Regions from separate parts of the Homo sapiens genome. Here all the other regions are linked to region 3. Evidence: fine-mapped expression QTL. A gene starts in region 3. Each other region holds a variant in brackets. All regions are shown on one strand. Distances are from middle to middle.

Region 1 (10,050 bases), 100 kb after region 3:
CATAAATAGCATATAATAAAAACTCTAAATAACAGTGGCTCAACCACACAATTATTTATTCTCCCACATAAAAGAAATCCATAGGAAGGAGCGAAGTCTTGGATGGAGGCTTCATGATTCTGTCCCATCATCCTCAGCGCATACCTTCTATCCTCAAAATCACTTCCCAGGAGACAAAGGAAAGGCAAAAGATGCGCATCGCCTCACTGAGGCATCGTCCAGAACGTGCCACAACAGTTCTCACTGAGTAGAGCTCAGTCACATGGCCACACCTGGCTGCAAAGGAATATAAGAAAAGTAGTCTTTTCATCTGAGGCATTGCCACTACAAATATCTCTGCCTTAGGAATGTATGAATAAATTACAGTTCATTTAGAAGAGGACCCGAGATTGAAACACAGTGTAAAAGAGCTGAACCAAGACCCTGAATTAATCATACCAGGGAGGAAGGATTGATGGTTAAAATTTTACTATCTGCATAATTTATCATTAGCTCTTTCTATAAAAATAAATTTTACTGTGTATATTTTAGATATATGTATACAAATGTGTACACATATGTATATATATACACATATATATGGTAGAATAAATTAACATATTCATTATCTGATATACTTATGCATTTTTCCCCCTGTGGCAAGAGCAGCTATCATCTACTCATTTAGCAAAACTCCTGAATACAATACACTACTATTAACTACAGTCGTCATCTTATACACTGGATCTTTTGGCTTGTTCATCTTACTTGCTACTTTGTATCCTGTGACCTACATCTCCCCATTTCCTCTCTCATTAGTTTTTTATATTTAACCGACTGTTTAATATGTATATTTATAATTTCATCCCTAGTGTGGCTGTTTTTCAGTATCTTTTTTGTTTCAAGCCTCAGTATAAGAACATCAATCATGTATTATCTAAAATAGAAATACCCAAATCTGGTCCTCTGACTGATGGGAAACAAGTATATGGGTGTTGAGTGGTGATTAGCAGGGAGGGAGATTTCATAGTTACAAAATTGATGACTCCCAGAAGGGACAGTTAGAGTTAAAAATGAAAGAATGCTTTGGTAGTTATCTGATGAAAGCTTCTGATATGGAACATTGGCTTTATGAAACTAAGACAATTTTGTTGTATCTTTCAGACCAAATTTTGAGAATCTTTTTTTTTTTTTTGAGACGGAGTTTCATTCTCATCACCCTGGCTGGAGTGCAATGGCATGATCTTGGCTCACTGCAACCTCTGCCTCCTGGGTTCAAGCGATTCTCCTGTCTCAGCCTCCCAAGTAGCTGGGATAACAGTCTCCCACCACCATGCCCAGCTAATTTTCGTATTTTTAGTAGAGATGAGATTTCACCATGTTGGCCAGGCTGGTCTTGAATTCCTGACCTCAGGTGATCCGCCCACCTTGACCTCCCAAAGTGCTGGGATTATAGGCATGAGCCACAGCACCCAGCCAAGAATCTTTTAAAAGAGGATCAGGAGTCATTTAAGTTTTTAAAAAATATTTGTATTTTTTAAAAAATGTATTATTATTTTTATTTCCATAGGTTATTGGGGAAAAGGTAGTGTTTGTTACATGAGTAAGTTCTTTGGTGGTGATTTGTGAGATTTTGATGCACCCATCACCCAAGCAGTATGCACTGCACCCAATTTGTGGTCTTTTATCCCTCACCCTCTGAGTCCCCCAAATCCACATGTTTTTCTTATGCCTTTGCATCTTCATAGCTTAGCTCCCACATGTGAGTGAGAACATATGCTGTTTGGTTTTCCATTCTTAAGTTACTTCACTTAAAATAATAGTCTCTAATCTCATCCAGGTTGCTGTGAATGCCATTAATTCATTCTTTTTTATGGCTGAGTAGTATTCCATTTGAGTAGTATTCCACAGTTACTACTGAGTAGTATTCCACAGTTTCTTTAGCCACTCATTGATTGATGGGTATTTGGGTTAGTTCCACGTTTTTGCAATTGCAAATTGTGCTGCTACAAACATGTGTGTGCAAATATCTTTTTCATATAATGACTTCATTTCCTCTGGGTAGATACCCAGTAGTGGGACTGCTGGATCAAATGGTAGTTTTACTTTTAGTTCTTTAAGGAATCTCCACACTGTTTTCCATAATGGTTGTACTAGTTTACATTCCAGCAGCAGTGTAAAAGTGTTCCCTGTTCACCACATCCATGCCAACATCGATTTTTTTTTTATTTTGGCCATTCTTACAGCCAGCTGATCTTCAACAAAGCAAACAAAAACATAAAGTGGGGAAACGACACCCTATTCAACAAATGGTGCTGGGATAATTGACAAGCCACATGTAGGAGAATGAAACTGGATCCTTATCTCTCACCTTATATAAAAATCAACTCAAGATGGATCGATGACTTAAATCTAAGACCTGAAACTATAAAAATTCTAGAAGACAACATTGGAAAAGCCCTTCTAGACATCGGCTTAGGCAAGGATTTCATGATCAAGAACCCAAAAGCAAATTTAATAAAAACAAAAACAAATAGCTGGGACTTAATTAAACTAAAGAGCTTTTGCACTGCAAAAGGAACAGTCTGCAGAGTAGACAGACAACCCACAGAGTGGGAGAAAGTCTTCACAATCTGTATATCTGACAAAGGACTAATATCCAGAATCTACAACAAACTCAAACAAATTAGCAAGAAAAAACAAACAATCCCATCAAAAAGTGGGCTTAAGGACATGAATAGACAATTCTCAAAGGAGGGCATACAAATGGCCAACAAACATATGAAAAAATGCTCAACATCACTAATGATCAGGGAAATGCAAATATTTGTATTTTAAACAAAAAGGAATAAATGCACAGTGAAAAGTAAGTCTTTTTCTACCCCAGGCCATCAAATCCCTAAACCTCTAGGCTTCTAGTGCCTCTTCCCAGAGCAACCTGTCTTACTAGTTTCTTGTATAAGGAATCATATAAAGCTGGTGAACCACATGAAAATGAATGCTTGCTTCTTATTATCCACAGTATGAACTTTGATTTGCAGGGATTAACAGGAAGAGCAAGCACAAATAGGACCATCTCTAGAAAACCCCTCCTTGATTATCCCAGGCAGATGTTCTCAGTGCCTCCCAAGCTTCTTCATGGCTTAAAAAAATTGTACTGAAATCCATAACATAAAATTTACTATTTTAATTGTTTTTAAAATGTACAGTTTAGTGGCATTACGTATGTTCTCATTGCATAGCCACCACCACCATCCATTTCCAGAACGTTTTCATCATCTGAAACAGAAATCCTTTACTCATGAAACAATAACTCCATATTCCCCCTCCCTCATAGCCCCTGGTAATGATTCTTCTACTTTATGTCTCTATAAATGTGACTATTCTAGGGATCTCATGTAAGTGGAATAATACAATATTTGTCCTTTTGGGCCTAGCTTAATTAACTTGGCATAATGTCCACAAGGTTCATCTATGTTGTAACGTGTCAGAATTTCCTTCTGGCTGAATTAAATTTATTGTTATGTATACACCACATTTTGTTGATCCATTCATCTATCAATGGATATTTGAATTGTTTCCAACTTTTGGCTATTGTGAATAAAGCTGCTATGAACACTGGTGTACAAGTATCTGTTAGAGTTTCCGCTTTAAATTCTTTTGTTTCCTTTGCGTCTTTTTATGGCATACTATTATTTATTGTAGTTGATGAGTGGATGCACACATGCTTTAAATTCCCTATTAAATTCTAACCCCTTGAGTGCAGGGCCCTTGATTGTTTTTTTCACTCCCACAGTCATACATTTGTCCATTCAACAATTCTTTATTGAGCATTGCTGAGTACGAGGCACTATGCTAGACTTCGGGGATACAGGGTGTAATGATGAACGTGAGCTGTATCCTCTAGCAGCATACGTCTAGTGAGGTACATTTTTATTTATAATTGTATCTGATACAATGTCTTGCACATTGTAAATATTCAACAAATGTTTGTTGACTTGTTGGTTGACTTATTGACTTCATGTATCTTCAGAGGTTCCTGAAAGTGTCATATCAATTATTGGATAGCAGTACAAATTTTTTGAACAAATGTAACAAATGTTAGAGTATGACTTTCTTGTTCCTTACTTTATTTATAGCAGATAGGATGGTGTCTATCATACAGTACGGGCTCAATAGTTTAAATAGTTTTAAAATGAAAGGTGATTACATAATTTGCCATAGAGAATTCTGATAAGGGCCAGACATTAATGCTCATATATTATGAATGGAAAAACTGAGGCATTTAAGAAAATCCAGAAAAGTAGTGACCAAGTCAGGAATAAACCTGGGTTTATTGGCCTGCAGCCTAATGCCTTCTGCCCTCCATCACACCAGTGCGTAAAATTAGAACTGATATCCCACCTTTCTGCGAAAGATGTGAACTTTAATTAGGTGTAATCACACACAGTATGGAGAAGGTTTAAGGCCTTTAAATTTCCTAAAAATGAAAATGAATCAGATTCTAAAATAAGCTTGTTAAATGCTATTCTTAAATAAAAAAGATAGTAGCATATGATGGTGAATTGCTTTTGCTGCTGTGAGAGGTGAAGTGTTGCTGTGCCACCTGCTTGGGAAGACCAAGCTGTGTCTAATCTTATACATCATTTTTCTGCTCATTCAGCTCAACCTCATTCCTGACTGTCCATGAATTATTGAGGCTTTTTGTATCTTTTGAGCAATCTGATTTAGAAATATTTAATCCTATGTTATATGAGCTAGAGTTTAAATCACTTTATTTTATTAAGAATTCTGACTAAATTTTTCATGAAGGAGAAGGTTGAGGTTTTAATTATTTATAAGTTTTTGGATTATTTGTGAATCTGAAGGCCAAGTTTTTCTTATAAATTTAAGATATTTCAGTTTCAAAAACTATCCTGTATTTGAGATACGTAAACTCATTTAATAAACCTAAGTACATTGGGAAAGTGAGACAGTGGGGAAAAAAAGAAAAAAGAAAAAACAAAACCTAAGTACAGCACAGATTGGAAACCCCAGGAGAGCATAGACTGAATTCACACTCAAGCTTAGCTGCTCAAATCCTGAAACTGTCATTGGTCCACTGAAGGTACAGGAGTCAGAGGACCTTAATTCATAAGGCAAAGGATTGTATATATAGATATAAGGAGTTTGACATTTTAAGAAGAGTGAATTGAGCAGAAATTCTCCAGAAGAACTTAAAGAGAACAGAGTGGACTCTTCCCCATTCTACCGGTTCTGGCCCCAAAGTTATAAAGGGCTTGGATACAAAGGTCAGACTTGTTATCTTGTTGATGCTCAGATTTTCTAAATAATGAAATGTGTTTTTGCCTTTATGACAACAGGAAATGCTCAGAAGCCTTCAGACTTGGCATAATTTGTCATAAGAATGTAGCTATTCCATTGATTTTGTTGTTGTCAAATTTGTGCATTCTCCATTGTACCTTTTTTTAGAGTCAGGAGGAGGAAGGTAACCTGGCCAAGTGGTGGCCCATGGTGTTACTTCTTTGTTACCAGCCTTATGTGATTTGGGTGAAATAGGTGTAAGTGCGCATTGTGGTGGGAAGGGTCAGAGCAATCAGCAGGGGTCATATGGTGAAATCAAAGACAGGAAAATGGGTTTTGGCCAAAAGTTGTATTGGTGACTGACTCAGAATGTGTTGACTCCCACTCTGTGTTCTGGAGAATGACTGGAGCTCTCCCTCCAGTGGGCCATACTTTCTCCCTATCCAACCATATGTAATGACAAAAAACCCTCCCTCTTAATAAGCTCTCCCTTGATCCTGCCAGGCAACTGTCAGTGCCTGTGAGAGTAAAGATCAGCAATTCTTGCTGTTTTGGTCACTTACATGTGTTCTTTGGCAGAGAGTTTGGTGTTTTGCAATACAGATGGAGAGAGGCAGTCAGAGGAGGAACTGAGGTTGGCGTCAGGAGAAAGATGCAGGCGGACAAATCTAAGGTCAAATATTCTCTCCCGCATCTAAGACAGTGAACAAAAAGCAGACACCTTTGGTAGTTCTGGCCTCTAATAATATAAACAACTTATTTGCCAAGGTACTATGCCAAATGCTTTATAAGTAGCACCTCATTAAATTCTTACAATATGGCCGGGCGTGGTGGCTCACGCCTGTAATCCCAGCATTTTAGGAGGCTGAGGCAGGCGGATCGCTTGAGCTCAGGAGTTCAAGACCAGCTTGGTCAACATGGCGAGACCTTGATTCTACAAAAAATCCAAAATTAGCCTGGCGTGGTGTTGCCTGCCTGTAGTCCCAGCTACTTGGGAGGCTGAGGTGGGAGGATCACTTGAGCCCAGGAGGTTGAGGCTGCACTCCAGCCTGGGTGGCAGAGTAAGATCCTGTAGCCCCCCAAACAAAAAAAAAATTTAAAAAAATTCTTACAATACCCCATGAAGTAGGCATTATTCTTTATCTCCATGTTACAGATAAGAAAACCAAGATCTATGCTGTCTCAAATTCACAGAAAAAGAAAGTAAAAATATTTTTTAAAAAAAGAAAACCAAGATCAACAAAGAGTAAGTAACTTTTCTAAGAATATGGAGCAAGAAAGGGGAGAAACCCAGGCTGCAGGCCCTGAACACTCCAGGCTGGTCCACTGTGATGGGCCCTGGTTCAGCAGGCTCCATACTGCCCTCAGGAGCAGCACTAAATAAATCGCTCCCTTTTTCAAATACATGAAGCCAGCCATCACATCAGATGATGCCCTGCCTGAGGGCTCCCCTTGGCCTAACTCCTATTAGTAATACCCATCTTAAATACTCCTCTTTTCCAGTAATGGCACCTTCTCTCACAATGAGCTTCAGTATTCATCAGAATGCTGCTTCTATCCTCCTGTACAATCTTCCGGTTAACAATGCTAGTCTAGACTATCCTTCTAGGAGAAGGGAGGGGAAGGAGGCAGGCGGAGGCTGTGGAGTCCCATGAAAGCTCCTGGAACACATGTACCACATGAGGAAGATGCTGCCATCTGGACAACCTCATTAGCTTTCCAGCTGCCTCTGTGTGTATCTTTCTATGGACAGCAACTATGCAAATGTGATCTTTGTTTTAATGAGTGCGTCAGGTGTATTTTGCTGTAACATTATCTATGATTCATTGTGGTATTAAAGTAATAACTTGGGCCAGACAGCTCATGCCTGTAATCCCAG[C/T]ACTTTGGAAGAGAGAGGCAGGTGGATCACTTGAGGTCAGGAGTTTGAGACCAGCCTGGCCAACGTGGTGAAACCCCGTCTCTACTAAAAATACAAAAATTAGCCAGACGTTGTAGTGCACACCTGTAATCCCAGGACCAAGCAGAGGGGTGGAATGGGGACCATTATAACACCACTGTTCAGCAACGAAGCTGCTGCCTTGTAAAACAGGCTGAATGAATGCAGGGGCTGCAGTAGAGGGGAGTCCTGTGTTGAGGAAGTAGGAGGAGATTAGATGGCACCAGAGATCCCTTCCAAATTGCAGCATGTATAGTTCTAAAAATAAAGTGCTGCTGGTATGATCTCCCTTCTTTATCAGTGGGTTGATACACTTCAACTCCCAACCCCACCCCAACCTCTCCTTGGCTCCTTAGAGGCTCTCTCACTTCTCCAAACAGTTTGCACAGTGGCTACAGATGGGCCCTCATGCATGACACAGCCGTCTCCGAAAGGCTGATAGATCAATCATGGCTACTGATCTCTTAGCTCTGTGTGGGCCAATACATCCTGAACAGGGGGATGTCTTCTATCTGGTAAGTTCCACAAGAGTTAAGACCATGCCCATCTTGCTCACCACTGAATTTCCAGCACCAGTCCCAGAGCCTGATATGTAGTTGAATGACTAGAAAGTGATGAATTAATGAATGAATGAGTAATAAGCACAGTTGCCAAAAAAGACTTGGGAGAGGAAGGTGGCATTATCACCAGGATCATTTTATCCTATTCAAGGAGCTGTTTGAACCAAGATCTAATACTTTCAATAACCGTAGTCATCTCCCATTTGGCCTAGATTGTGAACTGGGAGAGAGTAAGCATGCTGTCATACCCAGGAAAGGCTCCGGTGAGTCCCTCCTTAGGTTCGAACCAATCTACAGACATTTTCTTTGAGCTGTGGCACCAAGCATGGTCTCTTGGACATAGATTGTGCTCTACAAATGTCTGTGATGGTGACTAAGTACCCCAGGTCCTTGCAGGAAGGTAGTGTCCTGAATTCTGTGGTTTCCTAGCACAGAATCTAAGAACATAGTATAATAAAGCTCTAAGATTTGTTGGGCTTGTGAATCATGAAGGCTTACCCTATATTCAACTGAAGTCTCCACCCAGGGGTGCTGCCCCTGAGATCCTGAGATGTATAAATGCACTGGAGCTTTTTTTTTTTTTTTTTTTTAAAGTGAAGTAGTTTGAGTCTTTATCAGAATCCTGCTCAGAATGCAATCTTTCTTTTTGAGACATGATTCATTCGAATGTTATTTCTGTGACTCCCCTTTATCTGAGATTCTTTTAGGGTAAAATGCTATATGCAAATTTGGGTTAATTTTAAAAATTTTAAAAACTTCATTCTAATCTTGCTTTTGACTTCATTACTCCTCTGAAAAAGTTAAGATTATCAGTGACCTCCAGTCACTTAATTCATTGTTGAACTCTCCAAAAAAAAAACTTTTTTTTTCTCCGTCCAAAAAAAATACTTTTCCCCTTAGCTTCTGTAACACTACATTTTGGTTTTCCTCTCACTTATGTGGCCTTTCCCTTCTCAGTTCCCTTTAAAGCTCGTGCTTCTATACTCAGTGGTTAATTGATGGAGCTCCTGAGAGCTTGGCTCCAGGGCCTCTTCTTTCCTAACTCCATACTTGCTCCATACCAGTGGCCTCAGTTTTCTTCCATATGCCGATGACTGTTAAATTAACTCCAGCTCAGATTCCTTCTCTAAACTCCAGACCCATTTATTGCCTTGACATGACCATTTGAACATTTTAGAAGCACCTCTAGCTCAATTTGTCTAAAATTGAACCTGCAATCTTTCTCCTAAAACTCTCCTAAACTGGTTCTTTCCCAGTGTTTTCTATTCACACCAATGGCATGAGCAACCTGCCAGTTACTTGGGCCATCAACTTTGGAGGCATTTTTTTTTTTTTTTTTTTTTTTGAGACGGTGTCTCGCTGTCACCCAGGCTGGATGGAGTGCAGTGGCGCGATCTTGGCTCACTGCAAGCTCCGCCTCCTGGGTTCACGCCATTCTCCTGCCTCAGCCTCCGGAGTAGCTGGGACTACAGGTGCCCGCTACCACGCCTGGCTAATTTTTTGTAATTTTAGTAGAGAGGTGGTTTCACCGTGTTAGCCAGGATAGTCTTGATCTCCTGACCTCGTGATCTGCCTGCCTCCAACTGAGGTTGGAGTCAGAAGAAAGATGAAGGCAGGCAAATCTAGGGCCAAGTACTCTCTCCCGCATTTAAGACATTTAAGGCCCGGTATTCACATCCCGGCCTCCCAAAGTGCTGGGATTACAGGCATGAGCCACCGCGCCCAGCGTGGAGGCATTATTGACAAATCCCTCCCCATACCCTCCATTGCTAAGTCCTGCTGATTTTACCACCTGCTATGGTTTGAATGATGGTTGGTTGTCCCCACCCCAAATTCATGTGGAAACTTAATTCCCAATGGAAGACTGTTAAGAGGTGTGGCTTTAAGGAGATGATTGAATCATGAGGGCTCTGCCCACATGAACAGAATTAGATGCCCTTATGAAAGGACTTGACAGAAGGAGTTTGCCTCTCTCTTGCCCTTCCATCCCTTCCACCCTGTGAGGACACAACATTCCTCCCCTGTGGAGGATACAGCAACAAGGCACCAACTTGGAAGTGGAGACCAGGCCATTGCCATACACTGAATCTGCTGGCGCCTAGATCTTGGACTCTCAGCTTCCAGAAATTGAGAAATTTCTGTTTTTTATGAACCACCCAGACTCAGGTATTTTGTTATCACAGCACAAATGGACGAAGATGCCACCTAAATAAAATCCACCCTCTTATTTTCATCTTCATTGCCATCACCCTAGCCTAAGCACTTACTATT
Region 2 (10,206 bases), 24 kb after region 3:
AAGACATTTTACCTCTTGCAGTCTCTGTTTTTAAAAAGTTTATCTGTCAAACAGAAATACCTGCACGGGTACCTAACAGAATTATAATGAAAATGGAAAAGATTGCTCTGTTTCTTGATTACAAAAATAACCTAAATCCAGTAAATTATCTAAGCATAAATTCACAGAGTAAGAAAAGCTACCATGCTACTATAACACCTTTAAAAGATGACACAAATTCCTTAACTTGATAAAGAGAATCTATAAAAGACCTATAGCTAACATCATACTCAGTGTGAAAGTCTGAATATTTTCCCCCTAGGATAGGGGACAGGACAAGGATATCTGCTCTCACCACTCTTATTCAACATAGTAGTAGAATAGTATGCCAGGGCAAAAATACCAGGAAAGGAAATAAAAGGCATATTTATTGGATACGAAGAAATAAAACTGTCCCTATTCACAGGTGGATAATTATAGAAAATCATAAGAAATCCACAATGAAACTTCTAGGATTAATAAGTAGTGCAACAAGTTTGCAGGATACAAGATCAACATATAAAAATCAATCACATTTCTGTATACTAACAATGAACATGTGAAAACCAAAATTCAAAGCACAATACCATTTACAATTGCTCCAAAGAAAATGAAATACTTAGATAGAAATGTAACAGAACGTGTAGAGGATCTGTGTCCTGAAAATTTTTAAATGTTGATTAACTAAATCAAAGAAGACCTAAATAAATGCAGAGATATACTGGATTTCTGGATTGGAAGAATCAACATACTAAAAATGTCAGCTGTCACCAAATTATCAATAGGATTAATGCAGTTACTATAAAATCTCAGCAAGAATATTTTGTCAACATAGATAAGGTTATCCTAAAATTTATATTGAAATGTGCAGGACTAGAATAGCTACAACAGTTTTGAAAAAGAAGGATAGGCCAGGCTACCTGGGAGGCTGAGGCAGGAGAATCACTTGAACTCAGGAGGTGGAGGTTGCAATGAGCCAAGATCATGCCATTGCACTCCAGCCCGGGCAACAACAGTGAAACTCCGTCTCAAAAAAGAAAAAAAAAAATAGAAAAGAAAAAAAGGAAAAGAAGGGTAAAGGAGAGGAATCACTCTACCAATGTTAAGGATTACTATTTAGCTGTAGTAATCAAAACAGGGTGGTATTGGTGGAGACAGACACATGGAACACTGAAATGAAACAGGGAACCTAGAAGCAGACCCACACAAATATGCCCAACTGATTTTTGACAAAGGCATAAAAACAATTTAATGGAGGAAAGAGTATCTTTTCAACAAATGAACACATGATACTAGAGATAGCCTAGGTGTGCTCATGTGTGCATGCATACACACACACCCCCCTAAGTCTCACACCTTATACAAAAATTAACTCAAAGTAGATCACAGACTTACATGTGAAACTAAAATTTTTAGGAAAACACTCGGGAGAAAACCTTAGAGATTTATGGGTAGGCAGAGTTCTTTGACTTGACATCAAATGCATGATGAATAAAAAGGAAAAGGTGATAAACTGAACTTCATCAAATTAAGAACCTTTCGTCTGTGAAAGACCCTGTAAGAGAATAAAAAGACAAGCCACAGACTGAGAGAAAAGATTCACAAACCACATATCTAAGAAAAAACTTGTATTTAGAATATATAAAGCATCATCAAAATTCGACAGTAAAAAAACAAAACAAAACAATCCAATTAGAAGATAGGCAAAAGACATGAACAGACATTTCAACAAAAAGGAGATACAGATAGCAAATCAGCATGTGAAAAGATGTTCAGCATCACATGCCATTAGAGAAATACAAATTAAAACCACAATGAAGCCGAGCGCAGTGGCTCCTGCCTGTAATCCCAGCACTTTCAGGGGCTGAGGCGGGGGGATCCCTTGAGGCCAGGAGTTTGTGACCAGCCTGGCCAACATGGTGAAACTCTGTCTCTACTAAAAATGCAAAAATTAACTGGGCGTAGAGGCAACACGCCTGTAATTTCAGCTACTGGGGAGGCTGAGGCAGGAGAATCACTTGAACCCGGGAGGCAGAGGTTGTGGTGAGCCAAGATCGTGTCATTGCACTCCAGCCTGGGAGACAGAGTGAAACCCTGTCCAAAAAAAAAAAAAAAAAACTGCACACACACACACACACACACACACACTGAGAACTCACTACACACCTACCAGCAACACTAAAATAAAATAAAATAAAATAAAACATAGTGGTTTGTTTGACAAACATTCTTTTCTTTTCTCATATGCAATACATGGTACGAAGTTCACCCTGGTCCCAGGTAAATGTTGCCAAAGCCATCATGGGACCTATGTGCACAGTCGCAAAGGTTTGAGAGGTTTCTGATTAGAGAAGCAACTTAGACCCTTGGAAGGGATCTTGGTGGGTGTAGTTCCTTGGTCTCACTCACCTCCCTTGCAGTGCAGCAAATCATTTCACTCACAGGCCTGAGCAGTTTTAGAACATCCTTGTAGAAAATAATATGTTACTCCCTTGGGTCTTTTTTCTCGGCCAGCAAAACTGAAAAACACAGACCTACAGGCTTAGGGGGCCACAGAGGGCTCTAGAAGAAAAAAAAAGTAAGTAAAAAAGAGATTTGGGGTCTTAAAGTTTCACCGAAGAGGCAAGGATATAACACCAAATTTTCCTAAGTTTATCTGAAAATTGTAATCCCTGTGAACCATTAAGCTGTACTGACATTAAAAAAAAAACCACTATTGACTTGCAGGTTGGCACAAATAGTCTAGTCTGGTCCATACTTGCAAATGAACTTTGTTTCATTTCTTGTTGCTTTGCACTAGTATTTATTTTGAAGAGAAGATTGAATGAGAGGGGAAGCAATATTTAAGGCAATTCTGAGTTATATGTAACTTGACACTGTGAACCAAGAGTCATAAAAATGTCTACATCAGGCCAGGTGTGGTGACTCATGCCTGTAATTCCAGCACTTTGGGAGGCCAAGGTGGGAGGATCATTTGAGGCCAGGAGTTTGAGATCAGCTTGGGCAACATAGCGAGACCCCATCTCTACAAAAAAATTTTAAAAATTAGTCAGGTGTGATGGTGCTTGCATATACTCCCAGCTGCTGGGGAGGCTGAGGCACAGGAGAATCTTTTGAGCCCATGAGTTTGAGGTTACAGTGAGCTATGATCTTGTACTGCACTTCATTGTGGGTGACAGAATGAGACCTTATCTCTTAAAAAAAGAAAAAGGAAAAAAAATCTATATTGTAATGTTAAAATTGACTTTAGGGGAACCTAACCTACCAAATTAATTTAGAATGTGAAAGATGCCATATAAACATTATTCATCTATTCATTGCTAAGTTATTGGTAGGAATAAAAATTTGGAAGCAATTTGATGACCTATAATAAGAATAAATTATTAAATTCTTATTTAATAAACTATTGCATACATTTGCATATGATTATGAAGATTATGCAACAACATAGAAAATCCTTAAAATGTCATGTGTTAAGAGATTACACCACCCAAATGGAAAAGATGGAAAGGAAATATGTCAAATGTTAACAGCTGTGTTTGGGTAATAGGATGATTAGTTGTTTTTTTCTTCCTTTTCTCTCATGATTATTTTAATCAGTTTCCAATTTTATAAATTGGAAAATCAATTTAAAGCACCCAACTGAAAAAGACAAAAACTTAAAGCCAGAAAGAATGAAGTGGGGTTACTTTGAAGTTAGCTGTTGTGCGCATAGCTTCATGAGGCATTTCAGAGGGGACGAAATCTCAAAACAGTTATTGCAATTTGTTAGGCGATTGCATTTATTCTGAGAGTGATTGGAGTGGTTGGAAAAACAGTAGAATAATAGCACGAGAAACTAGACCCTCCCACCCCCAGCTGCCAGTAATTCAACCTAGGGCTTTAAGAACCAATTTCTGTCCATTCAAAGTGCGCTTGGTCCTGGAGACTGCCTCCCCCAGGCCATTGTGATGGTGATGGCCTGGTCCCCTCAACAGCTCCCGGAGGACCAGGCACTTACTGGCAGAGCCCGGGCAGCTGTCTGGAGTGGTGTTGCGGGTCGTCAGAGACTCGCAGCCTGTGCAACGATGACCTGGAGGTGAACAGTCCCCTTTCTCATACCTACTCCCCAGAGGCAACAGCCCCCTCATTAGGGTACAGTTTCTAATCCAAACAACCATTAATCTTTCTCAGGGTTAAAAGGCCAGGAAAGCAATTTTTGCGCGTTCGCGCTATTTTGATACTGTACTTGTCTGTATTTTACAAGAGCAGACTTACTTCACTGACCACTTGAAAACACCCCACAGCTGTGTCCACAGCTACTCGAACAATGCCATAGAGAGGGACAGGAGTGCAAAACGAGCCAGCTATTTATTGTGGCACTCAACAATAAATAGAAACATGACCTATTTGGAACAAATCAGTATTCTGTATCAAAAAATAAATTAGGGATATGCATGTATTTTAAGTGAAAATGCCACCGTATGATGATAGTTTTATGAACATAGTATTTTCCAAACTCTTGAATACCACTCTATTAAATGTCCTTGCCTTGGTAGGTATTTTAATCCACATAAATGGAGCTGCGACTCTTAAGAATTTTTCTTAAAGGACATCTATAGAAAAATAGGATACAGAATCAGAAAAAATACACTTAATTATTGTCTCTGAAACATGAAATGTTTGATTTACAGAAATGGGCCTAATCTAGCTTATCCTCTTTTAATAGCTAGTAAGTCACAAAACTCACCTTTTCCATAATCTCTAATTGTAAGGGCCAGAATGATGGGTATCCAGATAAAAACACCAAGTCTTCCTAAATCTGTTTCTTCATGCTTGACCTTTAAATTCTTCCTCTACAGAGTCATCATCAATATGAATACCAAACACTCCTCTTGGTGAGTCACATTCAGACGTCTGGCTACTGTTAGCAAAGGCACTGAACATTTGAGAGAGATGGGGGGAGAATGCATATTTGTATCTCAAATTATTTTACATCGAATTTTCCCAATTCGAAAATCTCACATTAAGGACCAGGTAATACATAAAACCTAGTCATAGCATTTTCTTTCTTTCTTTTCTTTTCTTTTCTTTTTTTTTTTTTTTGAGACAGAGTTTTGCTCTGTTGCCTAGGATAGAGTGCAGTGATGTGGTCTCAGCTCACTGCAACCTCCACCCTCCAGGTTCAAGTGATTCTCATGCCTCAGCCTCCTGAGTAGCTAGGACTACAGGTATGCACCACTACGCCCAGCTAATTTTTGTATTTTTTGTAGATATGGTGTTTCACCATGCCATGTTGCCCAGGCTGGTCTCAAAACTCCTGGACT[T/C]AAGCAATCCTCCTGCCTCAGCCTCCACTGTGCCCGGCCTCATAGCATTTTCAAGCTGGAAGAGGCCTTAGTTGAATGAACTAAGACTCAGACAAAACTGAAACAAAATCCAGGGCCCTTGAACCCTAGCCTAATGCTCTTCTAATAATGTCATATCACATTGCCTAATATATTATAAGTGTTCTCAAACTTACCTAGACTGCTTCTGAGGTGGGGGTGGTGAGGGAAAAATATATGTGTATGTGTATACATATAAGTTTTTGCCATGCTAAATATATTTTGAGACTCTCATTAACAACTTTTACTGAAGTTTCCTGAAGGATCTCAGATTGGCAGAGTTTAGCTGTTCTCTGCCTCATTCATGCCCAGCTTCTGCCCTCATCTCCAGGATTCTCCTGAAGAGCTAGAAGAAATTTTAGCTAGCTATGATCTGCAAGGTGTAGCTGAAATTCTACTGGCACCATCTTAAGCCTATGTTTGGGGCACTTGGTATAAAAAAATTTGAATGTTCTGTAGAAATTAAAATTACACCTTAATAATACCATTTCTAAGTAAAAAATGTACACATATATAGCTAGTTATACAACATATATTTATGCATACAAAATTACTGGAATAACATATACAAAATTTTTACATAGCTATCTTTTGGATGGTGCAGTATGAACAATGATTTTCTTTTGTGTTTATCTTTGTATTAACAGTTTTTGGTACCGAATATATTTTATGTCTGTAGTTAGAGAAAACCCCCAATAAACATTATTTTAAAATCTCAACAAAATAAAGACCTTTATGGAGATCAAGTGGCCTAGGCAAGTTGAATGGCACAGTAATGCTTTTCTCATCTGTTTGAAAAAAATCCTGAAGTAATTATATTACTCATTTATAAGATTAAAAATTTAATTCAATTTAAAATGTGAGTAAATCTGCAAGTACTCTGAGATCTATACTGCCAAAGCTTGGGCAAGAAAACCTCAGTGGGTTAACTTTTGAAAGGAAAAATGAGCTGTCCAGGTTTCTGTAGCCTGGGAATAAAAGGGAGGAAGAGTATCACACTAGTTGGATTCTACTTGCATGCTGTAATCTGTAACCTACAAAACTGCTTCTTTTCGAATTAATGTATTCAGAGCACCAGAAACATTTTTCCAGAGGGAATAACCATGTAGGATGTTAGTTTTTGCTTTTTGTTTTTGTTTTTGTTTTTTTTTTTTTAAACAAAACAAAACAAAAAAACCAACTTATTCACCAGAGGATTGGTCTCTAATATTTTACCCCTGTGGATTTGTTTTTACCTTTTAAATACGTTACTAGTATTTTTATAAAATAAAACGAATCTGACCTAAAACATTAAAATGACATTTTTCTTTCCTTTCCCTTCTCTTTTATAAATGTTAGAAAAGTAATATATGCTTGTTGTAGCAAATCCAAACAATACAGAAGTTTATAAAATAAAAAATGAGGCTGGGAGTGGTGGCTCATGCCTGTAATCCCAGGACTTTGGGAGGCCAAGGCGAGAGGATCACTGGAGCTCAGGAGTTTGAGACCAGCCTGGGCAACATGGCGACACCCCGTGTCTACAAAAAATACAAAAATAAATAAATAAATAAGTCAGGCATGGTGGTGCATGCCTGTAGTCCCGGCTACTCAGCAGATTGAGATGGGAGGATCACCTGAGCCCGGGAAGTGGAGGCTGCAGCGAGTCATGATTGTACCACTGCACTTCAGCCTGGGCAATAGGAGTGAGACCCTGTCTCAAAAAATAAATAAATAGCTACTCAGGAAGCTGAGGCAGGAGAATCACTTGAACCCAGGAGGTGGAGGTTGCAGTGAGCCGAGAACGTACCACTGTACTCCAGCCTGGGAGACAGGGCAAGACTCCATTTCAAAAAAATAAATAAAAATAAATGAATAAATGAATAAATAAATAAATAAAGTGAACATTTTCTCTTAGTTCTCCACACCCCAAATTCCATTTCTCCAGTAATAACTTTTAAATTTTGATGTGTATCTTTCTTTTGTATGTATATGTAGATATATGTTTATGTATAATTGAAAAAGTAAAAATCAGATCATACTAATATATAATTATTTGGTAGCTTGCTTTCTGCCAACTTCCCAGTATATTATGGACTCATTTCCAAGAGATTTACTTCATCTTTATTAACAGTACCATAGTATTCCACTGTCTAGTATACTATAAGTGATCTATATACCAATAATGAATACTTAAGGTTGTTTCAAATCTTTTATTATTAGAAAAGTGCTGCCAGAAACATCCTTGCCATGCTTCTGTATGTACTGGTGCTAGTGTTTCTATCAGATAAATTTTTAGACATGAAGTGAATTACTAGGCATAGGAAATATAATTTACACTTTTGATAGATACTGAGTTTTTGCTCATTTGCTACATGAAACAGAGGCAGAGTATTCTGTGTGGGGTTTGGGACAGGAACACTGACCCCTGAAGTCGAGCCTGGGGGTCTAACATAGTGGTCATTTGTCCAGCCTGTTTTATGGAAGGAACTGGACTCTGAGCTTTGGGGAATTTCCTGCAAGATAAATGTATATCCCACCTATACTGGTAACAGGTAAGTTATGCGCAAAGATGAAAAGACAAAGCCCTAGCTAGATCAGCTCTTGCTCTCAGCACTACAATGGCCAGCGGTAATTCTTTCAGTTAAAATGACAATTAATACAGTTTCATTGAAGCTTCAAACAGAGCAGCCAGATCCTCTTCTGACTGGGGACAGGGTGCAAGCTTGGTGACCCTTTCCTGAAACAGTAAATGAAAGAAGTTACCCAGGGCTTTGAAAAGGCAGTTTGTAAAAGCTACAAAGTTATGGAAATTAACTTGGTCATAAGAATCAATGACTTGATAAACGCCATATCTTTAAAAACGGTATTTCTTGTATACTTCATATGAGTTGATCCCCATCTCAGAGGTTTATCACATCATACCTCTTTCCCCACAGAGCTTTCGAAAGCCACTGCCCCTTGCCTTACGCCCTGGCAACAGCCTTCTGCCGAAACCAATCTTGGGGAAAACACCCTTATCATGACAAAACTAGGTCAGTCAACCACCTCTGCCAGGTTCTCTGTACACACAGAGCTCTGAGAGAGAACTGGGTCGTCCCCGAAGTCTAAGACCATGTATTTTGCAACTTGGACTTAAGGCATATTCAAAAGGACTTCAGTAGAACATTAATGTTCATGCTATGTGCAACAAGTGACTCCGTTTTTTTCTATTAACTAAGGTTTTATCTCTATGTTCCCAAGCAAATCCAGTGATTTGTTAATTTCTCCAATGATTATTGAGTCAATTCAGCGAAGACATCCAGCACATCCTACTTCTATTTATACTCTGGTCAGTAGCTTCTCGGGGACAGGGGCTAAAATGTACAGCGATGACTCCCCTGGCACCTGCATGAAACTGAGGAATGTCCATTTTGAGGTTCCATTTTCATGGGTCTCTGGGCATGTTTTCTATTGCTGGCATGTGTTTGGGAGTGTAGCTAGTGGAAGGGAAACTTGTGAGGCCAGGGGCTCAGCTGTGTGCACTGCTCTCTGCCCTGCGCCTACCAGAGGGCTTTACATAGTAAGTAGATGCTCAACAGTTATCTGCTGAATTAGTGAAGATGGTGGGGAGGGGGATACTGGAGTCTCAAAGTTCACATATACAAGATAGAACTCTGACTCTCCCACCCCACCGCTCCTACCATTTTCTCATCTCAGAAATGACACCCAGTAGCTCAGGCAAAACCCAGGAGCCACACTTGATTCCCCTTTCCCTTGCTCTGCAAGTTCAACTCATCAGCAGGAGTGTCAGTCCTACTTCCAAAATGAAGCCCCAGTCAGAGCGCTTCTCACCTCCTGTGGTACCACAACCGGAATCCAGGACACTGCTATCACTCGCCTGTCCAGCTTGAGAAGCTTCCTGAAAGGTCTGTTTCCACTTTTGCTCCATTCTTGCCCCCCAGAGGTCATTCTCCCCACAGCAGCCAAAGTGATTTTTTTCCAGTATAAACTGAATCCTACCATTCCTGTGTTTAATGCTCGCAGATAAATGCCTGTGGCAATTACAACAAAACCATGGCCTCTAAGGCTACCCCGATCTGGCTCTGTTTCCTGCCCCAGCTCTAACACCTCACTTAGTCCCACCATCCCTTTTAAGTTCCTTGAATATGCTAACGTTGACCCTGCCTCAGGGCCCTTCCCCTCTGCCTAGAAAGCATTGGCCTATCATCATGCACCTTCCCAACACCCTGGCTGGAGATCTCTCCACACTTTCCCCGTGAGATCACTCTCTATCTCCTTATGCAGGTTTTCCTTCATACACTAATCATTATCTGAAATGATTTCATTTACATCTTATTTATAGATGTTCACTGTCTCCCCTCACTAGAAGGTAAGCTTCACAAAGGAGAAAAGGGACTTTATTTTCCTTCTTTTAGTATACCGTACAATGCATGGTATACAGTAGGTATTTGTTTTGTCTGGTAAAAGGAATGAAAAGAAGGATGGATGTATTAAAAAAATTCGCTCAAAATGCATCAAAAACCTAAATGTAAGAGCTAGAACCCTAAAACTCTTAGAAGAATAATTAGGGAAAAATCTTTAGGAATATTGGCTTTGGCAATGATTTCTTGGATGTAACACCAGAAGCACAGGGAGTCCAGTGCGGTGGTCCCAGCACTTTGGGAGGCTGAGGCAGGCGGATCACTTGAGGTCAGGAGTTCGAGACCAGCCTGGCCAACATGGTGAAACCCTGTCTCTACTAAAAATACAAAAAAAAAAAAAAAAAAAAATTCAGCTGGGTGTGGTGGTGGGCAGCTATAATCCCACCTACTCAGGAGGCTGAGGCAGGAGAATTGCTTGAGCCTGG
Region 3 (9,932 bases):
ATGAAAAGATGAAGAATCACATCAATAATTATAGAAATAAAATTAAACAGGATATGTTTACCTATCTGATTGTCAAAGACTAACAACATTGATGCCACACAGTATAGGCTCAGCTGTTCTGGAAAAGGTATTTTAAAATGTAATTGCTAGGAATTTGTCAGTGGCTATAAAATTGTTTCAATGTGTATCTCCTTTGGCCTGGGATTTTCATATCTATGAATTTATCCTCGGAATCATTTAAGAACATAAAAATATGTTCAAGAATTTGTTGTGGCATTGTTTAATAGAAAAAATGGGGAACCCTATTTATCGATAATTTGGTTAAATAATGAATCTAGAAAACTTCAGGTTTGGTTTGGGTAAAAAAAATTATAGAGCATTCATACAATGTTGTATTATACAGCCGCTATAAAGAATGAGGTAGGCCAGGCACAGTGGCTCAGGCCTGTAATCTCAGCACTTTGGGAGGCTGAGACAGTAGGTTTGCTTGAGCCCAAGAGTTCAAAACCAGCCTGGGCAACATGACAAAACCCTATGAAAAATAATATTAATAATAAATAAAGATTTAAAAATGTGTATATAAAAGAAGAATAAGGTAGAGCTATACAGATGAATTGGCATAGAAAGATATTCAAGATTTATTAAGAGAAAAAAGCAAATTGCAGGAGTTCGAGACCAGCCTGGCCAACATGGTGAAACTCCGTCTCTACTAAAAATATTAAAAAAAATAGCTGGGCGTGGTGGTGAGTTCCTGTAATCCCAGCTACTCGGGAGGCTGAGGCAGAAGAATTGCTTGAACCCAGGAGACGGAGGTTGCAGTGAGCCGACATGGTGCCACTGCACTCCAGCCTGGGCGACAGAGTGAGACTGTGTCTCAAACAAACAAACAAACAAAAAACAAAAAAACAAAACTGGCTGGGCACAGTGGCTCACACCTGCAAATTCCAGCACTTTGGGAGGAGGCAGAGGCAGGTGGATCACTTGAGTCCAAGAGTTTGAGACTAGCCTGGGTGACATAGTGAAACCCTGTCTCTACTAAAAGTACAAAAATTAGCTGGGCATGGTGGCTCATGCCTGTAGTCCCAGATACTTGGGAGGCTAAGAAGGGAGGATCACTTGAGCCCAGGGGGTTGAGACTGTGGTGAGCCGAGACCACGCCACTGCACTCCAGTCTGGGTGACAGAGTGAGACCCTGTCCCCTCCGCCAAAAAAAAAAAAAAAAAAAAAACCAACCCAATACTTATTGAATGCTTATATGTGTCAGGCTCTGGACTAAACATTTTATATGCATTAAATCATTTGCCAAAAAAAAAAGAGAAAAAAATAAAAAAATAAATGTGGCTTTTGTTGCAGAAGAAAAAAAATCATTGCTCCTTCCCATGGTTCTTGAGAAATGTTCTCTTATTATCCTCATTTAATGCTAAGGAAGTTGAATTCCACAATAGCTAAGCAACTTGCTCAAGGTCACATAGCTAGAAATGGATAGAACTGGGATTTAAACCCAGGCCATTTGACTCTGAAGTCTACATACCTAACCCCTCTCTTCTGCAGCTTCTCAGGATTTGCTGATAGTATACAGTAGTCCCTTTCATCTATGGTTTCAGTTACCCTTGGTCAAGTAGAGTCTGTAAATATTAAATGGAAAATTCCAGAAATATTTCATAGATTTTAAATTTTGCACTATTCTGAGCAGTGTGATGAAATCTCACACCAATCTGCATATCCCCTCCCGGGGCATGAATCATCCCTTTGTCCAGGGTCTCCATTCTGTGGACAACCCCCACCTGTTAGTCGCTTAGTAGCCATCTTGGTTATTAGATTTAAAGGACACACACACACACACAAAAGATTTAAAGGATATAGTGATACAGGGTTCAGTACTATCCATGGTTTCAGGCATCCGCTGGAGGTTTTGGAACATATTTCCTGCAGATAAGGGGGGGACTACTGTATTGTATAAAATTTTATATAGCATATACTGCTTTTGGAAATAAAAAGGTAATACATTTATATACATGTATACATTTACATGTATAGTATATGTACATGTTATATAGAAACAACAACTAGTAAAACTCCATCTCATTCAAAGGACATTATTATTATTTTTTTTATTTGAGGCAGGGTCTCACTGTTTGCCCAGGCTGGAGTACAGTAGCATGACCATGGCTCACTCTAGCCTCGAACTCCCTGGCTCACATGATCCTTCCACTTCAGCCTCCCAAGTAGCTAGGACAACAAGAGCATAGCACCATGCCTGGCTAATTTTTTTTTTTTTTTTTGAGACGGAGTCTTGTTCTGTTGCCCAGGCTGGAATGCAGTGGCATAATCTTGGCTCACTGCAACCTCTGCCTCTCAGGTTCAAGCGATTCTCCTGCCTCAGCCTCCTGAGTAGCTGGGATTACAGGCATGCGCCACCATGCCCAACTAATTTTTGTATTTTTAGTAGAGATGGGGTTTCTCCATGTTGGCCAGGCTGATCTTGAACTCCTGACCTCGGGTGATCCGCCCACCTCAGCCTCCCAAAGTGCTAGGATTACAGGCGTGAGCCACTGCGCCTGGCCGCCTGGCTAATTTTTTGACTTTTTTGTAGAGTCGGGGTCTCATGTTGCCCAGGCTGGCCTCGAATTCTTGGGCTCTAGCTAACCTTCTGCTTCAACCTCCCAAAGTGCTGGGATTATAGGTGTAAGCCACAGTGCCCAGTCGAAAAAAATTTTTAATGGAGAATAGGCTTTTGAAAATTGAGATACTTCAAAAATTGAAATGCTATCCTATGAAAAATTGTCATAGAAATAGAAACTCCAGTACAACCAAGAGGAGACAACTCAGTTTCAACTTTAAAGCGCAAAGATGTACTGCCAGTTTTATGTAAAGAAATTTATATATAAAATGGGAATTGCACAGCATTATTAGGCTCTAAAGACATGTAAGCTAATTTTAGAGTAATGCATATGCATGTTAAAGCAGCAAAACATAATACAAAAAGAGGAAAGCCGATGCTGGTGATGTTGGTGGTAAATGGACAAGCATTACTGGAAGCCCCCAAATTGTTCAGAATTCCTGACAGTATGTGACAAAACTGTAAAAAGAACTAGTTTGAGCAAATCACAATTCTCTACATCTAGCACAATGTTTGTCACACACAGTAGGAATGCAAATATTTGATGAAGGAGTAGATGGATGGATGAAATTGTTCTTATCCTTTTACCTTTTTTTTCTACTTTGAGGCCTATGCTCTGAGGAATTAATCCAAAAGAATAGTATTTTGGCCAGGTGCAGTGGCTCATGCCTGTAATCCCAGCACTTTGGAAGGCCAAGGCAGATGGATCATGAGGTCAGGAGATCGAGACCATCCTGGCCAACATGGTGAAACCCCGTCTCTACTAAAATACAAAAAATTAGCCAGGCGTGCTGGCGTGCGCCTGTAGTCCCAGCTACTTGGGAGGCTGAGGCAGGGGAATCCCTTGAACCCTGGAGGCGGAGGTTGCAGTGAGCAGAGATTGTGCCATTGCACTCCAGCCTGGCGACAGAGAGAGACTCCATCTCAAAAAAAAAATAGTATTTTATATAAATACATTCATTGCTGTGCTATTAATAATAGTAAAAAAATGGAACATTACGAATGCCAACAATAGGAAAACACCTAGATCAGGAATGCTATGTCCACATCGTGAACTCTGTTTAAACAAGAAAAAAAAAGTGTGCATAAAACAAGTCTTACTCTCTGTGCCTGGAGAAAATGGCAGAATAAGTGGTCCAGTTCAGGGTCACTTGGTGTCTGGTTGACATTTGTCAATTATTTTGGTTAAGTGGAGAACGGAGAGTGCAGCACGCACCACATGGAACACTGAAACCCTCCTGGCCACTGAGAGCTGGGGAGCGAGAGTGAAGAAGAAGCCTGGCATTGCTTTTTAAATGAAAGTCAACCAAAGAACATCAAAACTAAAGTTTCCTTACATTCTTGGTCAAGAGGTGCTGAGAGCTTTTGGCTCTTCTTCTGGCTGGACTGGATACTGCAAAGACAGAGAGAAAGAAATGGTTTTAGACAACATCAGCGAGGCTGACATAGCTACAGTAACAACACTGAGAAGGTTTGAATCTGTGGCGAGGCAGGGGCATAGAGGAGGGGACGGGAAAAAGAGACAGGGTCGTTGCGATTGAAGATGTTACTTGGCTTGAGTACAAAGTTCATAGCTGCATTACTCACAAGAGCTGAAGTTTGGGAACAACCCAAATGTCCACCAACAGATGAATGAATAAACAAAATATGGTGTCTGTATGTGATGGAATATTACTCAGCCTTGAAAAGGAATGGAATTCTGATACATGCCACACATGGATGAACCTTGAAAACATGGTACTAAGTGAAATAAGCCGGACACAAAATGTCACATAGTCTACAATTCCTCTTAATATGGGGTTCCTAGAGTAGTCAAATTCATAGAGACAGAAAAACAAACAAACAAAAGGACAAAAAACCAAATTTGTAGGACAAAAAGTAGAATGGTGGTTACTGGTGGCTGGAAGAGTGGGGGAATGAGTTAGTGTTCAACGGATTCAGAGTTTTAGTTTGGGATAATGAAGAAGTGCTAGGATGGATGGGGGTGATGGTTGCACAACAATGTGAATAGACTTAATGCCACTGACCTGTACACTTAAAAATAGTTTTTAAAATGGTACATTTTGTTATGCATATTTTGCCACAATTATAAAAAAGCTTAAAGAAATTAACCATTAAACATGTTACTTGGTTGGGAAAAGGTTTTACAGCAACTTCACAAGATAGCTACTCTTGTACCACAAGGAAGTGGCCATGAATGAAAATGGGAAGGGAAAAAAGATAAGATTAAATATTTATCTTTGACTGATCATGTTGATTATTCTAAATACAAAATAAAATTGGAAATCACTTTTTAAGTGATGTATTTAATGGTGCTTACTACATGCCAGCTACTGTTCTAGATGCTTTATATATTTACTCATTTATTCCCCATATGATCCTGGAAGATAAGTTGTTTCTCCCATTTACAGCAGTGGAAACTCAGGCCCAGAGAGGTTAAGTAGCTTGCCCAAGGTCACACAGTGCAGAAGTGGCAGCAGTCTCTTAACCACTTCGTTTTGACTTTTTCTTCCTTTAAAAATTTTGTAAATGGAAGTAAATGATAGAAAATAAACACATGTAACATTTTCATATTTCCTTCTACTTTGTTTTCTTCTCATATACAAGAAATACAAAATCAGAGGCAATGTTTTGGTTCTCTTTCTACCCTTCCCTAATTCTCCTTCCCTACCTTCCCAAGACTACTGAGATCACTAATTTTATCTGTATCTTTCTGGTCTATGTTTTTGTATTTTTCTCTAGATACATATCCATAAACAATATATAGTATTGGTTTATATTTTCAAATTTACAGAAATGCTATCTTACATATATAATTTTTCAGCCTGCTTATTTGGCACTCAGCATTATGCTTAGATCTACCTATGTTCACAGGCATACATCTAGTTTATTCCTGTTGACATTGTATAGTATTCCACAGCATGACAGCACCACATTTTAACCATTCCCCTCTTCATGGACACTCAGGTTATTTTCAGTTGTGCCTTCTTAGAATCAATGCCACCGTGAACATCCAGGGGTAAGAGGAGTTCCACCCAAAAGCGAAACTGCTGATTCCGAGGGTCAACTTGGACTTTCAGAGTTTCCAGAGGGAATTCCAACTCCTGCACGTGGGCAGCAGACTCCCAGCTCTTTTCCCTCTCTCTGGATCTGGCAGTAAATGTCTAAAGCTTAATTTATGTCCTGCAGGCTGTCTCTTTGTGGCCAAACGGAATCTCTCCCTGCCCCACTGTGCAATGGCCCTGTCAGCGGCTGACACAGGGGAAGAAAGGAATTGTTTGAATGTGGGCTCACAACACCAGCAAACACCCAGCCTACTTCATTCAAGGCTGACAATGAGACCAGGGGCTAAGCCTGAGTCATGGAGGTGGATGGGAGGGGGCAAGACAGGAGCGCAGGCAGAGAACAGAGGCGGCAGGAGAGGGGGCCATGCTTAGGAGAGGCTGAGGGGACTGACCAGGAACCAGACACTTGGAGTCATCAGAACCCTCACACAAAGCCCTTAACACCGTTCACTGAGGACCACAAGAGCTTATAAAGTCAAGACTCTCGTGTCGCATTCTCTGGCAGCATTAGTTCCGGGTTAAGTTTGCAAGGTGGCCCTGGGTTCTGTGGAGAAGCCAGCCCAGGGTCAGGGCGCTCTCTGACGGCTTCACTGGACTTCAAGCAGCCACCGGGAGTATTTCTCCGCACTTTGCATGGCACAGTTAGAAATCATACTTTTAAGCCAGCTGTTCTCATTTCAGAACCCACTTGCTCACTGGAAAAAATGAAAGTCTCTATCTAGCTACCCTGGGATTTTGTTTTCACCTGTGTGCATAGCAATGGCTTGCTGTCACTTCCATTGGTGTACTGGACTGTTGGTACTGAATTAAATGAGACAGGGAGTATTTAGCTGCTCTCGCCTTCCCCTTGATGGATTGTTTCTCAGTGATTGATGTTTATCCTTGTGCCTCTTTCCCCCCTCCAAAAAATCAAATACCATCAAAACCGAGAGTCCATCAGACCCCAGAGACCTGAGGATAAACCGTAGTAAGGCAGCACGTGACTGTCCTTCCCCTCCTGCCTAAGATGCCACGTTAAGGAAACAGTCAAGGGCAATTTCACTCACCCTTGGAAGGAATCACGGTGGTGAAAACTTCTATGTTCTCGTCACTGCAGCTGTAAATCTGATGCATCATTTCAGCCTCCTCTTCCCGAAGTGCCTGGGAACTGGAGGCCTCTGTCTCTGGACCCCTAGTCGCGAGGCATCCTAATCCAGTCTGGCTCAGGGATCATTGTGCGGGTCCACAAAAGACAGGCTGGTGCTATGAGCTCATCTCGTTCCAGTCTTCACTGCAACATTTTCTAAACCCATCTGTCCTTTTTTTTTTTTTTTTTTTTAAATGAATCCTATTATTGCAAACCTTTGATTGAGCCTGGAGGCTTCAATCCCCTCCCAGCTAGGATGTATTTAACATTTTTATTTTGCGGTGTCTGCCGCAGTGAATTTGGAAGCCTTTTGTGAGGTGACGACGAAGTGAAATCGCCTACTCTGTTAGCGCCAAGCTTGGCTGGAGAATTTCCACCAAAAAGGAAACGTGAATTTTGGTACCAGCAATTCCCTTTCTCATTTCAGAAATGAAGGGGCTTTTTTTTTTTTCTCCCCTCCAGGAGAACGGGATATTCAGTAATTTGTCATGTGCTAACTTGGCTCTCTTAGAAGTTTCTATTTTAAACAAAAGGACTGTTTCTCCAGTGTTTTCCCCTCATGCCATTACATGACAAGGCTGACATTTCTCAAGGGTCCTGTGTTTGGTACCTCCGCGTATAACCCTTAGGTGCTCACAGAGACATGGCAACAGGCAGTGCCCCATGTTCAAGGAGCAAATTATAGAAAGTTATATTTGTATTACCCTATATATCCTAATATATTATATAAACCCTATTATGCTACATATACAGGTTACAGATTATATACTGTCCCGTATATCATATTTATTATATATGTATGTATATCATATGTATATATGTATGTGTATATATATATATCATATATATTTGTGTATGTATATATATCATATATATTTGTATATATGATATATGTATATATAGCATATGTATATATTTGTATTACCCTATATATATTTGTATTACCCTATATATCCTAATACATTTATCCTATATATTTATTATCTTATAAATCCTATTATGCTACATATAGAGGTCACAGGTTATATACTGTTCCATATATCATATATATCATGTGTATATAATATCATATATATCATGTGTATATATCATATATATCATGTGTATATATATCATATATATCATGTGTTTATATGATATCATATATATCATCTGTATATATGATATCGTATATGTGATACATGTACAATGATCCCTGAGCCGGACTGGATTAGGATGCCTCGAGACTAGGGGTCCAGAGACAGAGGCCTCCAGTTCCCAGGCACTTTGGGAAGAGGAGGCTGAAATGATGCATCAGATTTACAGCTGCAGTGACGAGAACATAGAAGTTTTCACCACCGTGATTCCTTCCAAGGGTGAGTGAAATTGTCCTTGACTGTTTCCTTAACGTGGCGTCTTAGGCAGGAGGGGAAGGACAGTCACGTGCTGCCTTACTACGGTTTATCCTCAGGTCTCTGGGGTCTGATGGACTCTTGGTTTTGATGGTATTTGATTTTTTTGGAGGGGGGAAAGAGGCACAAGGATAAACATCAATCACTGAGAAACAATCCATCAGAGGGAAGGCGAGAGCAGCTAAATACTCCCTGTCTCATTTAATTCAGTACCAACAGTCCAGTACACCAATGGAAGTGACAGCAAGCCATTGCTACAGACACAGGTGAAAACAAAATCTCAGGGCAGCTAGATATACGATATCATATGCATATGATATCCTATGTATGCCCTGTATTTTATATATTCTCTATGTATATACACACAAATAAGGTTATGGTTGAAACATATGTATCATGCCAAACCCACTGCATTTTATTACACTGTTACAGCTTCATTTCTTCATACTAATACTGATGGTGATGAAATAATAATAATGAGAGTTGCCACTTATTAAATGCTTGCTATAAGTTAGGTAGTCTGATATATAATTTCATTTAATATCTACGAATACCCAATAAGACTAGCTATTATATTTGCCATCTTATAGGTGAGAAAACTGAGGCATAAAGCCACTGAGTAACTCTTGTGAGATTAAAATATCTAGTTTGTGGTAGAATTAGGATTTAATCCCTAGTTTGACTCCAAAGTCAAATGTACTTAACCGGGCCAGCCTCAGTGGCTCACGCCTATAATCCCAATATTTTGAGAGGCCAAGGCAGGAGGATCACTTGAGCTCAGGAGTTTGAGAGCAGCCTGGGCCACGTGACGAAACCCCATCTCTACCAAAAATACAAAAAATTAGCCGGGCGTGGTGGTGTGTGCCTGTGGTCCCAGCTACTCGGGAGGCTGGGGTGGGAGGATTGCTTGAGCTCAGGAGGCAGAGGTTGCAAAGAGCCAAGATTGCCCCACAGCACTCCAGCCTGGGCGACAGAGACAGACCCCATCTCAAAAAGAAAAAGTACTTAACCAGTAAATTTTACTCTATTCTTTATCTCCTGTCAACCCAAATAACAGAGAGAAGCTCTCTAAAAATATGTAGTTTAATTGGGAATTGCAGGACACAGATGCTATGACAAATCTTAGGCACATCCAGGGAGGCTAAGGTAAGGGGAAGTTTTAAAGGCAAAAGAGTACATATAGATTGTTTTGAAACAAACAGAACATTGGTTACAAGGGTTTATGACAGGAGTTGTTGTCAGTTCTTTAGTGGAGACAGTGTGTCAGGCAAGTGTTCTTGTACAAGCCGCTAGCTGTCTTTGTGTGACTCATGTAGCAAACTATGGTTTGATAACATTTCCTGTGATAGTTCCTTTTATCAGGCAAATCATGCCTGAGAGCCTCCCCCTACCTCCATGACCTCCTGGCTCTATTTTGTTAAGGCTGACATAAGTGACCCAATTTTGATTCTGACAACTTTCCCACTGCAAAGCCTTCCATTACTTTGAACTTGAGTGGACCTGATCCATATGTCTTAGACCTGGAGTTGGCATCCATTGATATCTCTATAGTAAACAAATTGAGGCATTTACTCATCAGGTAGTCGTCAATATTATATACCTCTTTCTTTGAGAATTGCACCCAGTCACAGAGGATGGCTCTGGGAAGCCATGTTTATTCTCCTTGAACTTGTCCTCTTGCCACCTTTGTCTGGACCACAGTGGACATCTAACCCAAACTACTGCCTTGT

Evidence for each region.
Region 1: its variant is fine-mapped to the expression of VXN in whole blood (TOPMed, PIP 0.97).
Region 2: its variant is fine-mapped to the expression of VXN in blood mononuclear cells (TOPMed, PIP above 0.99).

The regions. Positions count from the first base shown.
Region 1 is chr8:66,389,193-66,399,242 of GRCh38, reverse strand. All of the region lies in intron 1 of LOC102724687 (a long non-coding RNA gene), which reads left to right. Among named protein-coding and RNA genes, the nearest start is that of RRS1-DT, 35 kb to the left of the region's middle. The variant C/T (reference allele first, on the strand shown) is at 7,163.
Region 2 is chr8:66,466,160-66,476,365 of GRCh38, reverse strand. ADHFE1 (alcohol dehydrogenase iron containing 1) reads right to left here. Exons shown (of 14, transcript NM_144650.3): 14 at 7,459-8,097. The coding sequence ends at 8,014. Among named protein-coding and RNA genes, the nearest start is that of VXN, 22 kb to the left of the region's middle. The variant T/C (reference allele first, on the strand shown) is at 5,325.
Region 3 is chr8:66,490,518-66,500,449 of GRCh38, reverse strand. It overlaps VXN (vexin), which reads right to left and starts at 6,884. Exons shown (of 6, transcript NM_152765.4): 1 at 6,732-6,884; 2 at 3,958-4,013. The coding sequence starts at 6,801.